Regions from separate parts of the Homo sapiens genome. Here region 1 is linked to region 2. The links come from fine-mapping of genetic effects on gene expression. A gene starts in region 2. The other region holds a variant in brackets. All regions are shown on one strand. Distances are from middle to middle. Region 1 has its middle 110 kb from the start of NAT2. Region 2 holds the start of NAT2 (N-acetyltransferase 2).

The links. PIP is the estimated chance that this variant, and not a neighbour inherited with it, causes the effect. A credible set is the group of variants that fine-mapping cannot tell apart.
Region 1: its variant is the best candidate, but not a certain one, in a credible set for the expression of NAT2 in cerebellar hemisphere (GTEx, PIP 0.80).

What each region holds. Positions count from the first base shown.
Region 1 is chr8:18,496,995-18,502,375 of GRCh38, forward strand. No RefSeq gene overlaps it. Among named protein-coding and RNA genes, the nearest start is that of NAT2, 110 kb to the left of the region's middle. The variant G/C (reference allele first, on the strand shown) is at 2,015.
Region 2 is chr8:18,388,119-18,393,499 of GRCh38, forward strand. NAT2 (N-acetyltransferase 2) reads left to right here and starts at 3,164. Exons shown (of 2, transcript NM_000015.3): 1 at 3,164-3,227.

The DNA of each region.
Region 1 (5,381 bases), 110 kb after region 2:
GGGGCTGGGGAAGTTTTCCTAGGGTAAAGGGATTTCCAGCCTAAAGGTAATAAAGCTTTTATCTCTCTTGTCTTGAGGTTTCATGCAAACAACAAATATTTGTTGAATGTCTACTGTTTTCATTGCACTCACCACTGCCCTTCCTCATGTCCTGTGCAGCGATTGGCAAGCAGTTTCTGCCTTCAAGACTCAGTCTAGTGAGGTGCTACCAGAAGTCTAGACAGGGAGCCAGGCTGGGGTAAGGCCCTACTGGTAGTGGCACCGCTGGAGGGGATGCAGAGAAAAGGCAGAGCCCTCTGATTACTTTCACTGACTCTCATGGTCTGAGGGCTGTTGGTAAAGTTCCTATTGAACAGAGAATGCAAAATCCTTTATCGTATGGTCATGCAAATTATTACTTCAATACAGAGCATTCAAACAAGTATCAACAAGGCAAAGCTTCCATGACCAATCACATGGAGGGACCTCCAGGTGTCTGGCTGCAGGGCCCCTTGGGGGAGAGGCAAGCATCCAACACGGACACTGATCCATCAATACAAGCCGGGATCACACCTCCTAGGGAAAGTGAAGGTGCTCTGAGCACATTGAGGAGCAGAAAAGCCTAGTCAGAAAAGACTTCCCATGAAACTGGCATTCAAACACATATCTGAAGGATGAGTTACTTGGGGAAGAGAGGGGATCCTTCAGGAAGGGCACAGAATGAGCAAGACTAAGAGGTGGAGAGGTTGTTAGGAGAATAGCAGGATCAAAAAGTATAGCCGTGAAGCTGGACAGAGAGTTGGGGGAGCCCGGTGGGCTCAGTCAAGAATATTTGGTCTTAGGCCAATCACACCTGTAATCCCAGCACTTTGGGAGGCTGAGACAGGAGGATCACTTGAGCCCAGGAGTTCGAGAGCAGACTGGACAATGTAGTAAGATGCTGTCTCTACAAAAAATAAAAAATTAGCCAGGCCTGATGGCAGGCACTTGTAGTCCCGGCTACTCAAGAGACTGAGACGATGATCACTTGAGCTCAGGAGTTCAGGGCTGCAGTGAGCTATGATAGCACCAATGCAATCCAGCCCAGGAACAGAGCAAGACCTTGTCTCAAAAGAAAAAAATAAAAATAAAAAAATGGTCTTTATTCCAAATGCAGTGGGAAGACTTAGAAGGGGAATCACCATCACGTCAGTTTGAACCATATGAAATTGACATTTTTGCTGGTCAAAAATGACCAACGCTGGCAGTTTTATATGGTTCAACCTAATACAGGTTTGAGCATCCCAAATCCAAAAATCTAAAATGTTCCAAAATACAAAACTTTTTCAGGGCGGACATGATGCTCAAAGGAAATGCACGTTGGAACATTTTGGATTTCAGATTTTCAGATCTGAGATGCTCAGCCAGTAAATACAATGACAATACTCCAAAATCTAAAAGTCCAAAGTCCAAAACACTTCTGGTCCCAAGCATTCTGTTCTATCCTCCATCTGTATTTCGAAAAGAGTCTTCAGCCCGACCCTTCCAAGGTTGACTATTTGTTGTTGGTCTTTTAATTCCAAGGTGATTTTCTCATTTCCTTTCACAGGCAAGTCAAGCCTTGGCACCAACAGAGCAGGGAGTGAGAAGTGTGGGGGCCGAGGCCAGATGGGCCCTGCATCCTACTTTCTGGAGCAGCAGCGACACTGTCATCTTGCTCACCTTTCTTCACAGCCTGCAGTGCCCCACGTGGAGGTGTGGGCTCACCAGGGAGGACTCTCACCTCGGACAGCTGATCCCTGTCCCCTGTGCCCAGGGACATTCTTCTTGCCAGGAGTTGATGAGTTCCCAGTGGAGGTGGAGGACTCCTAAGCTTTTCAAGGGATGGGCTCAAGTAATACAATGCCCCCACACACCCAGCCATCGGCGGCCCCTCATTCTCAGCTTTCAGTTGCTTCTGTGTATGCGAGACCAGAATCCAGGTCACAGCTCAACTGGACATCATGGCACTGACATTGTTCATTTTCATTTTGGCAGCACGCACAGAGCTGTTCAA[G/C]AGAAGGTCACAGTGAGATCATATAAACCAAATTTAGCCATCTGGGTACAAGGAGAGACTTAGGTGATTCGTGTCTGATAAGGAAAACCAGACTTTCACAAAGCATCCTTTAGTGGGAGCCTTTTAGAAACCCCAGAGATGACACCTGTCAAACTTCACAGCACACTTGGGCTTGAGGGGACCGGAGAGTGCACAGGCTCCCTGTGTAGATGAGACCCCGAGGAGATGGTGGTAGTTTTCTCATCTTAGACTAACTCCTACATCCCAGAGTCCCAGAGCACTTTATGTTCTCTGGTCACACGTTGAGGGAGGCAGTTTTAAACTAACTGGAGCAGAGGGGCTGGGGAAGGGCTTAGTTCACTTCCACTCATGGTCTGTGCTCACCTTGAAGTCACACCTGGCACTAAACCATTTTTGTAGAATAGGTGCCCCACTCTGCCACACGTTAATCCTGAAACTAAACAAGAGATTTGGTTGAGTATGGTGGCTCACACCTGCAATCCCAGCACTTTGGGAGGCCAAGGTGAGCAGTTCACCTGAGGTCAGGAGTTGAAGACCAGCCTGGCCAACATGGTGAAACCCCATCTCCACTAAAAATACAAAAATTGTCCAGGCATGGTGGCGGGTACCTGTAATCCCAGCTACTTGGGAGGCTGAGGCAGGAGAATTGCTTGAACCTGGGAGGCGGAGGATGCAGTGAGCCGACGTTGCACTACCACACTCCAGCCTGGGCTACAGAGCAAGACTCCATCTCAAAAACATATAAATAAACAAACAAGAGATTTGGCAGGGGTGGGGTGGAAATCAGGAAATCACACACCGGATAGCAAAATCTCACACAACTTTTCTTTCAATATCTCTCCTCATTTCCTGAAGACCCTTCCACCAAAATCTATCCCATTATTTCTTCCCCCTCTCCCACACAGTTCCTCAGATCACCTCCAACTGCCACCGCCCACTCAGCAAGGCAGAAGCCAGACATGTGGCCTCCTCATCTTCATTCTCCATCCTTGGAAGCCACTTAGTGAGGAATTGAGAGAGATGGGGTGGTATGGGATGGGGACAGGGGGAGTTTGATTTATCAAGTATTCACTCTCCAGTATTGGCCTCTTCTTAGAGGAGAGAATTTAAAATGTCCTATATTACTATTATTTCCCATATTATAATATTATTAGTAGTAGGCCAAAGAAAGCAGACTCAAGGAGACAAAAGGACAAAAATTTCAGTGTACAAACACAATCAAATAAGCATTAAGTGAGAACTGTTCACGGTCCAGGGTGACTTTGAAAATGGCCTCTTCAATGACAGAGGAAAATGAAGTTATCGGGAAAGCCATCACGTGTCACACACCGAGATTCTGTGACTGTTAAATTTTAATACGTTCGGTGCAAGGAAAATTGAAATTTCTGAAGAAAAGAAAAGCCAAAGGGCAAAGAGAAGAGAAATGAAACCAGCCTGGAAGTGGGGGAGTGGAAGCTGGGGGTGACACGAGGCCCTGGCACCATGACCTCTTTCTTGTAAGGGAGATAGACGTGCTCTCAATCACTGTGGGCGCAACCAGGGGGTCATGCCTTTGAAAAATGACAAAAACTACTGAAACTAAGGGGAAAACACAGAGCGAAGGCAGTTAACTCTCAGTTGTTCAAGGGCTGATGCTGAACTTGGGAATGATCTAGACTTTGCCTTTCTTTCTCCTCCTTTCCTGAATGTTGGCAAACTCACTGCTCACAACCACCTTATCCTGATGTTGAACAACCCTGCACCTAGCACATTAGTTAAATATTAGCATCTTTGATTAACGTTCTAGAGAGCCAGGGAAGAGTGTTTAAATTTTCAGTATAGCCATGAATTTTTGACAAATTTGAGAACTGACTCCATAGGAGTGAATGTGCTATTCCCAGGAACCCACACCTTGACAGCCGAAGATCGGCAACGCAGCTATTAAGTTCTGCCTTAAGGAATTCTCACCATCAGCGTGGAAGGAGATGTCCAGAAAAAAATGTGGGGGGATTAGGATCGTGCCAAGAATAAAAAGGAAAATACAGATAACATCTAACTACTTTTGTAGAGGCCCTTCCTCCAAATGTTGCACCACTTTCCCCAATACCCAAAGAAAAAGATTTTACTTGGGGAAAAAAGTCAGCAGCAGCACACACAAAAATGACCACACCACAAGGTGCAAGCATTAAAACCACGAAAAACGTTAATGTATATGATTGAGAACACAACTGAAATAATCAGTAACAAAATATTGATCACCTCGTCCGGGATCTGATAGGTAAATGGTTGAGTGAGTCGCGCCAGCCCTCAAAGAGTTTATAACTGTGTTGTAGGCTGTACAAAAAGACTAACACCCAGGAAGCAAAGAGTATTTAGGACAGAAGGTCATTGCCAACGAAATTGTTTCATGCCAATTGTAAGTTGCTGTAGTCCAGGGGCAGGGGTGGTTGATGGGGTTTTCTAGGCAATAAAGGGCTCAGCTTTGATTGGTGAAAAGAACAAAGGCCGGTCAAGAAAAGAGGGGAAGGAAATTTAAAGTAGAACAGCCGAATAGAACATCAGATGGGGGCTAGATACAGCTCCTCTACTTCTAGACAAGAAGTAATTACCAAGTAAAGAGAAAGCAGATGCTTGCCCGTGGACATACAGAAATTAAACACCCTGCCAGGTGCAGTGGCTCACACCTGTAATCCCAGCACTTTGGGAGGCCAAGGTCGGAGGATCACTTGAGTCCAGGAGATTGAGACCAGTCTGGGCAATGCAGTGAGACCCCTCAAAATTTTTTTCTCAAAAAAAGATTTAATTAGCTGAGTGCAGTGGTGCTGGGACCCCTGTAGTCCCAGCTACTCTGAAGACTGAGGTGGGAAGATTTCCTGAGCCTGGGAGGTCAAGGCACTGTGGGCTGTGATTGCACCACTGCACTCCAGCCTGGGTGACAGATCAAGAGCCTGTCTCAAAAAACAAAAGACAATGAAGAAAATAAATTAAACAACCAGCTAAGTCTCACTCTCCAGAACAATCTTTTTGGAAACTGAGGATGGAGGTGGAAAAGAAAGACCTTTTGTGGCTCTATTTTAGCCTACCCAAGAAAAACAATCTCAGCACTTCAAGTTTCTATTGAAAAGAAGATCGCTGAGTTTGGTTATCCATCCTCAGAAGGAGAGGATGGGACATCATAGTTTTGAGCAATGGTCGCCTCATTGGAAAAACAATTACTGCCATGAAGATCTGCACAACAGGAACTTATGATAATAGCACCTACTACATGGAGTGATTGAGAGGACTGCATGGAGTCATTTCTCTGAACTTTGCATCTTCCTCTGCAAAGTGAAAAAGCAGGTCAGGAAACTCACTGGAGGTCACGTAA
Region 2 (5,381 bases):
GGAGGTAAAACACAAAAGTGTGAAGACCTTCTGAGACTGAGCACCCAAGAGTTTTAAACTGTCAAGTTTGTCTACACTGAGTCTCAACAATTCATGAATTATTACATGTTTGTATGTTGCTAAAAATACTGGCTTCATCTGTGGTCCTCTGAACCTGGGCTTTAGTTTCTAGAATTGAGAATAAATTGTGATTATCTGTCTTTAACTGTCTGTCTCTTTTCAGGACAGCACTTTGCTGTGACTTCAATTCTGTCATGGATCTGAGAAGATTTATTTTCAGTTTGTTTAGTTTTCTCATTGATGAGAAGATGGGAGGGATTATCCCAAACTTTACTTGTTGAAGTGAAAACCAGAAGTTATGCTAAATGTTAAAGTAGATAATAAGCAAAAAAAAAAAAAAAAAAAAAATTAGCTTGGATATAGAACCCTTCTTCAGAGAAGATCAGGAAAGGAAGAACATTTATTTCTTTCTCTGCAAAAATATAAGTTTTGTTGTTAGCAAGGAAACAGTCAATTATCAAACTTTAGAATCTTGACATAAAAGTGAGTTAGCACATGTGAGAATCTGTAAACTAGACATAACTAACTCTAATGCTTTTCTTTAAAGACACAAACAACATGCTTTCTACGTGTATAAGTCACAGTGAAGAAGGAGCTTTTCTTTATGGTATCACTGTTGTTGCCCAGCCCATCTCTGTATCTCTTACTTGTATGGTGAGGAAGTACTCAGTGACAGCTCAGGTATTCCCCAATTCTGCTCTTCTTCCACATAAAAAACTTTGATGAAGTCAAATTTTGGTTTGAAGGTCTTGATGACCACCCTGTGGGAGGCTGTAGGGTATTCTCAAGCTCTCTGACATCTCACACTCCCAGCCTCAGGTGTTTCTTCCCTTGGACACCAGGATCCTTGACTCTGGTCTTACTCTCCCTTAGTCACAAGTCTCCTCATCTCATAGTTTCCCATGACGGTTCTTGCTGGACATCCTCAAGGATCTCTGTCAAACTGACAATAATTAGAGGCAATCTCAGAATTACACATGTGCCAATCTGGATTGCAACATTTTAATTCCAGGTGTCAGGTTTCCAACAATCAAGGAGAAAAATGACCATAATCCATTGACAATTCCTCTCCCACACTCAGTCAAAAATGGTCCAGATCACAGTCCTACATGCTGGAATTATTTCCTCTGCTTCTCTCTCACCCCACCTTGGCCAAAGATTTTCTAGCAAGATCTGAATTTTAATCCATCTCTCTTCGCCTGTGTGTCCCGACTAATTTGGCAGAAGGAATTCTTTCTTAAAACCTTGCCATTTAATTCACAAATGGAAATGTGAAGGGTCAATAGGTATGTGAAGAACCTATTCACCCGTATTCACTGGGAATCAGAGAAGTGAAAATGAAAAGAACACTGAGCTATCATCTTAGATACACAAAACTGTCAAACATTTGAAGGTGGCTAACACCAAATGTCAATCAGGATATGAGGAAAGTAGGAATTCTTCTATACAAGAGGACAGAAATCTGGCAGTGCCAAAAGAAAAAGTACATCTATGATCTGCCCCTCCGCAGATCCCATTCCTAATACATATATCCCAGCGAGTTCTGCTAATCTGCAGAGGATGTCTAGAAACGCATTCATCACATCAGTGTTTATAATAACCAGGAGTAGGAGGCAATCAAATGTCCTTCACAAGTGGAACTGGTAAGTTAAAGAGACTTAGGTTGGGTTTCTCTAAAACCAGGCCACAAGACAAAGATTTGTATTCCAGTGGCTTATTTTGATTTAGGAGATGATTTAAGGAATCACCAGTGCGGGAGTATAACAGTGAACCCAAGACACCTTGAGATCAATAAAAAGGTGCATTGTTGGCAGGCTGCCTGCAAAGAAAGGGAGCATAATCCCAGTAGACAACACCAGGAGGCAGTTTTGTACATGCCTAAGAGTAATCCCACCTTAGCATGTAGAACACAAGGATATTTAGTCTCCAGTTCCCATCATGTGGGCTGAGTGGTGGTCCCAGGTGCTTTAATTTGTAGTCCATCTGCCCAAGCACAGGCCAAAAGAAAGCCTTCCCACAGAGTCCCGAGTTCATGTGGCAGCATGCCAGAGGTATGTACTGGAACAGTAGGTGCTAAAGGCAACAATTACATCATGAAAACTGCACATCTCACTCATATGTGGAATCTAAAAGTAATTTAGCTCATAGAAGTTAAGAGTAGAATAGTTAGAGTAGTAGAAAGTTAAGAGTTGTTACTGGAGAGAAAAGAGGGTATGGAAGCTAGAAAAAAAGCTAGAAGGAAGGATTTTGAATGTTCTCATGACAAAGAGATGATAAATGTTTGAGGTGACAGACATGCTAATTACCATGATTTGATCTTTACACAATGTCTGCATGTATCAGAACATCACACACTACCAAATAAATATATACAATTGTTATGTGTCAAAAAACATTATATACAATGTTTATATTTTATATTAATATTAATGTAAATAAAAATTTACACAAATCTTTTCATTAAATATGGTGTGGATAATTATATTATCTGATGATACCCATGCCACAGGCTAGGAGAAATAAAAATTTACATTAATGTTAATGTCAAAAAAGCAGAAACAAAGCCATATGATACATGTGACACTTATACCACATGCATAGAGTTATTTCAGACACATTGTGTGTTACCTTTGGGTAGAGAAGTGAATGAGAGTGAGGATGAGAGATGAAAAGAGGCAGAAGAAAAAGAGAGGCCTTATAGGAAGTGATGAAAGTGTGCCATAAACTGAGAGTATGACTAAAACCTTTCATCTTCCTCTTCTGCCGCTTCTAAGTTATTGGTTCTGCTGTTCCTTGACCTGTTTCAAGCTCTCACCTTCTATATCACACATGGGAAGTCTGGCATCAGACTTCCAGAGAGCAAGAACTAGGTGAAATACAAGGGCACAGCTCTCCTAGCCTGTGGCATGGGTATCATCAGATAATATAATTATCCACACCATTTTTAACAAAAAGATTTGCGTAAGAGATTCACAGAGGCAACCTGAGGCCCTGCAACTACATTTCCCAGAGATCCCTGAGGTGATCCTAACTAGACTCTGGTGTCAGGGTGATACGGAATTCCAGTGAGATCACTTCCCTTGCAGACTTTGGAAGGGAGAGCACTTTATTACAGACCTTGGAAGCAAGAGGATTGCATTCAGCCTAGTTCCTGGTTGCTGGCCAAAGTAAGTAGAACTTTGTAAGTAATTTGCAGTGTACTTTGAAAGTGGGGTATAAATTAAAAATAAAATCAAGTCCCCCTACTGACTGAATGGATCCCCTCTTGTCCTAGGCGACCCCAGAGAAACCTGGAAAACTAAATTCCAGGCCATAATGGAAAGGGAGGTCAGACACGCCTCATTATACACACTCCCTTTTGGAGTTCAGGCACAACTGACCAGCATTAACATTGAAACAGTGATCATAAGACTGTCAAAATGGACTGTTTGTGGGAATAAGATACCAAATTCCAATCTGACTCTGGTTTAGCATCACATGACAATAGCAGACCCTGAAGGAAATCAATATATTTAATCCCCAAAATATATTTCTTTGACACATATTGAAATGGTCTTGCAAAACCATCTTTTATGGGGAAATTTGCTGGTTTCTGGCTCTGCTCTGATTGAGGAGAGAATAAATGAGAGTCTGACACCTTAAAAATCTGAAAAGAGATATTTACCATCTGTTTTCTCTAAGGCTGCTAGCTGGAGGTTTCATCTACATGACATAAACCATGGTTCCCATAAGCCCTTTTAACTCAAGCATTTAATTGTACTGACCGCAAGTCTTTAGACAAAACTTAACTCTTCAACAAATTGCCAATCACAAAATCTTTGAATCCACCTTTGTCCTGTAAGCTCTCCTACTTCAATATGTCTGATTTTCAGGCAGAGCCAATGTATACCTTATGTGGGGGCCATAGGCTGTTGGCCCCCTAAAGCTTCACTAAAAGTCACTGTCATGTGACAGGTTGATTAATAGGGGAAAGGGAGTACAAATTTATTTAATGTATATACATGGTCTATTAGCCAGGACCCTTTAGAGGGCCAGAACTAATAGGATAGATGTATACATAAAGGGGAGTTTATTAAGGAGTAGTGAGTCACATGATCACAAGGTGACGTCCCACAGTAGGCCGTCTGCAAGCTGAGGAGCAAGGAAGCCAGTCCGAGTCCCAAAACCTCAAAAGTAGGGAAGCCGACAGTGCAGCCTTCAGTCTGTGGTCAAAGGTCCAGGAGTCCAAAGGCTGAAGAACTTGGAGTTTGATGTTTGAGGGCAGGAAGCATCCAGCACAGGAGAAAGATGTAGGCTGGGAGACTAAGCCAGTCTAGTCTTTCCACATTCTTCTGCCTACTTTCATTCTGGCTGTGCTGGCAGCTGATTAGATGGTGCCCACCCGGATTGAGGGTGGGCCTCCCTTTCTCAGTCCACTGATTCAAATGTTAATTTCCTTTGGCAACACCCTCACAGACACACCCAGGAACAATACTTTGAATCCTTCAATCCAATCAAGTTGACACTCAATATTAACCACCACACTTGGGAAACTTGAGAATGAAGACCCAACTTCCCAGTAAGTTACAGAAACTCATGTATTATTCCGAGGCCACAGTAAAGAGTGGAGACTCAAAGCATGGCCAGAAACAGGTAAATTAGTTTTAGTGGCAACACAGGTTAAGAGAGAGAGGAAGGAAGAAGCTCGGCTAGCAAAGGTGGCCTTGTTATGTAGACGAACCTTTTCTCAGAAGCAAAAGATGGTAAATGTTTCTATCCAGATCTTTAAAGGTGTCAGACTCTCAATCGCTCTGGATCCTGGGAAAGGCTTAGAAACAGGAGAGGGTATGGCTGCATTAATGGACATTGTCCACAGACGCAAATTTTCCTCAGTTAAGACAGTTTTGCAATGCCACTTCTGCTTGTTGGCCAGTGGAAACCATTTTTAAATATGTCAAAGAAATATATTTGAGGGTAAAATATTTTGATTTTCTTCAGTCCCCACTTTGAAATTTAAAACAAGTTTCACATACTAAAAGCCAAGGTAATAGCTTTGGGGAGATTTAAGTTAGAGGTGTTTAGATAGAGACAGTCATAGCAGTGGAAAAACACATTTGGGATAAATATAAATGAGCAAATTTAAATATATCATTCCATATTTTCTTTAGGCAGTCCCTTGGTTTTGAGGTGAGATCAGTTCAGTTAAATATCTACGTCCCATTCCAGGAGGTGGGACTGCAAATGGTTTAGGCCTTTAGACGTAATGTAGGCAATCAGATTTCTAGTAGGAGGCATTTCTGTAGAAACAGAAAAAAATAAATAAATAAATGTTACTATCTGGA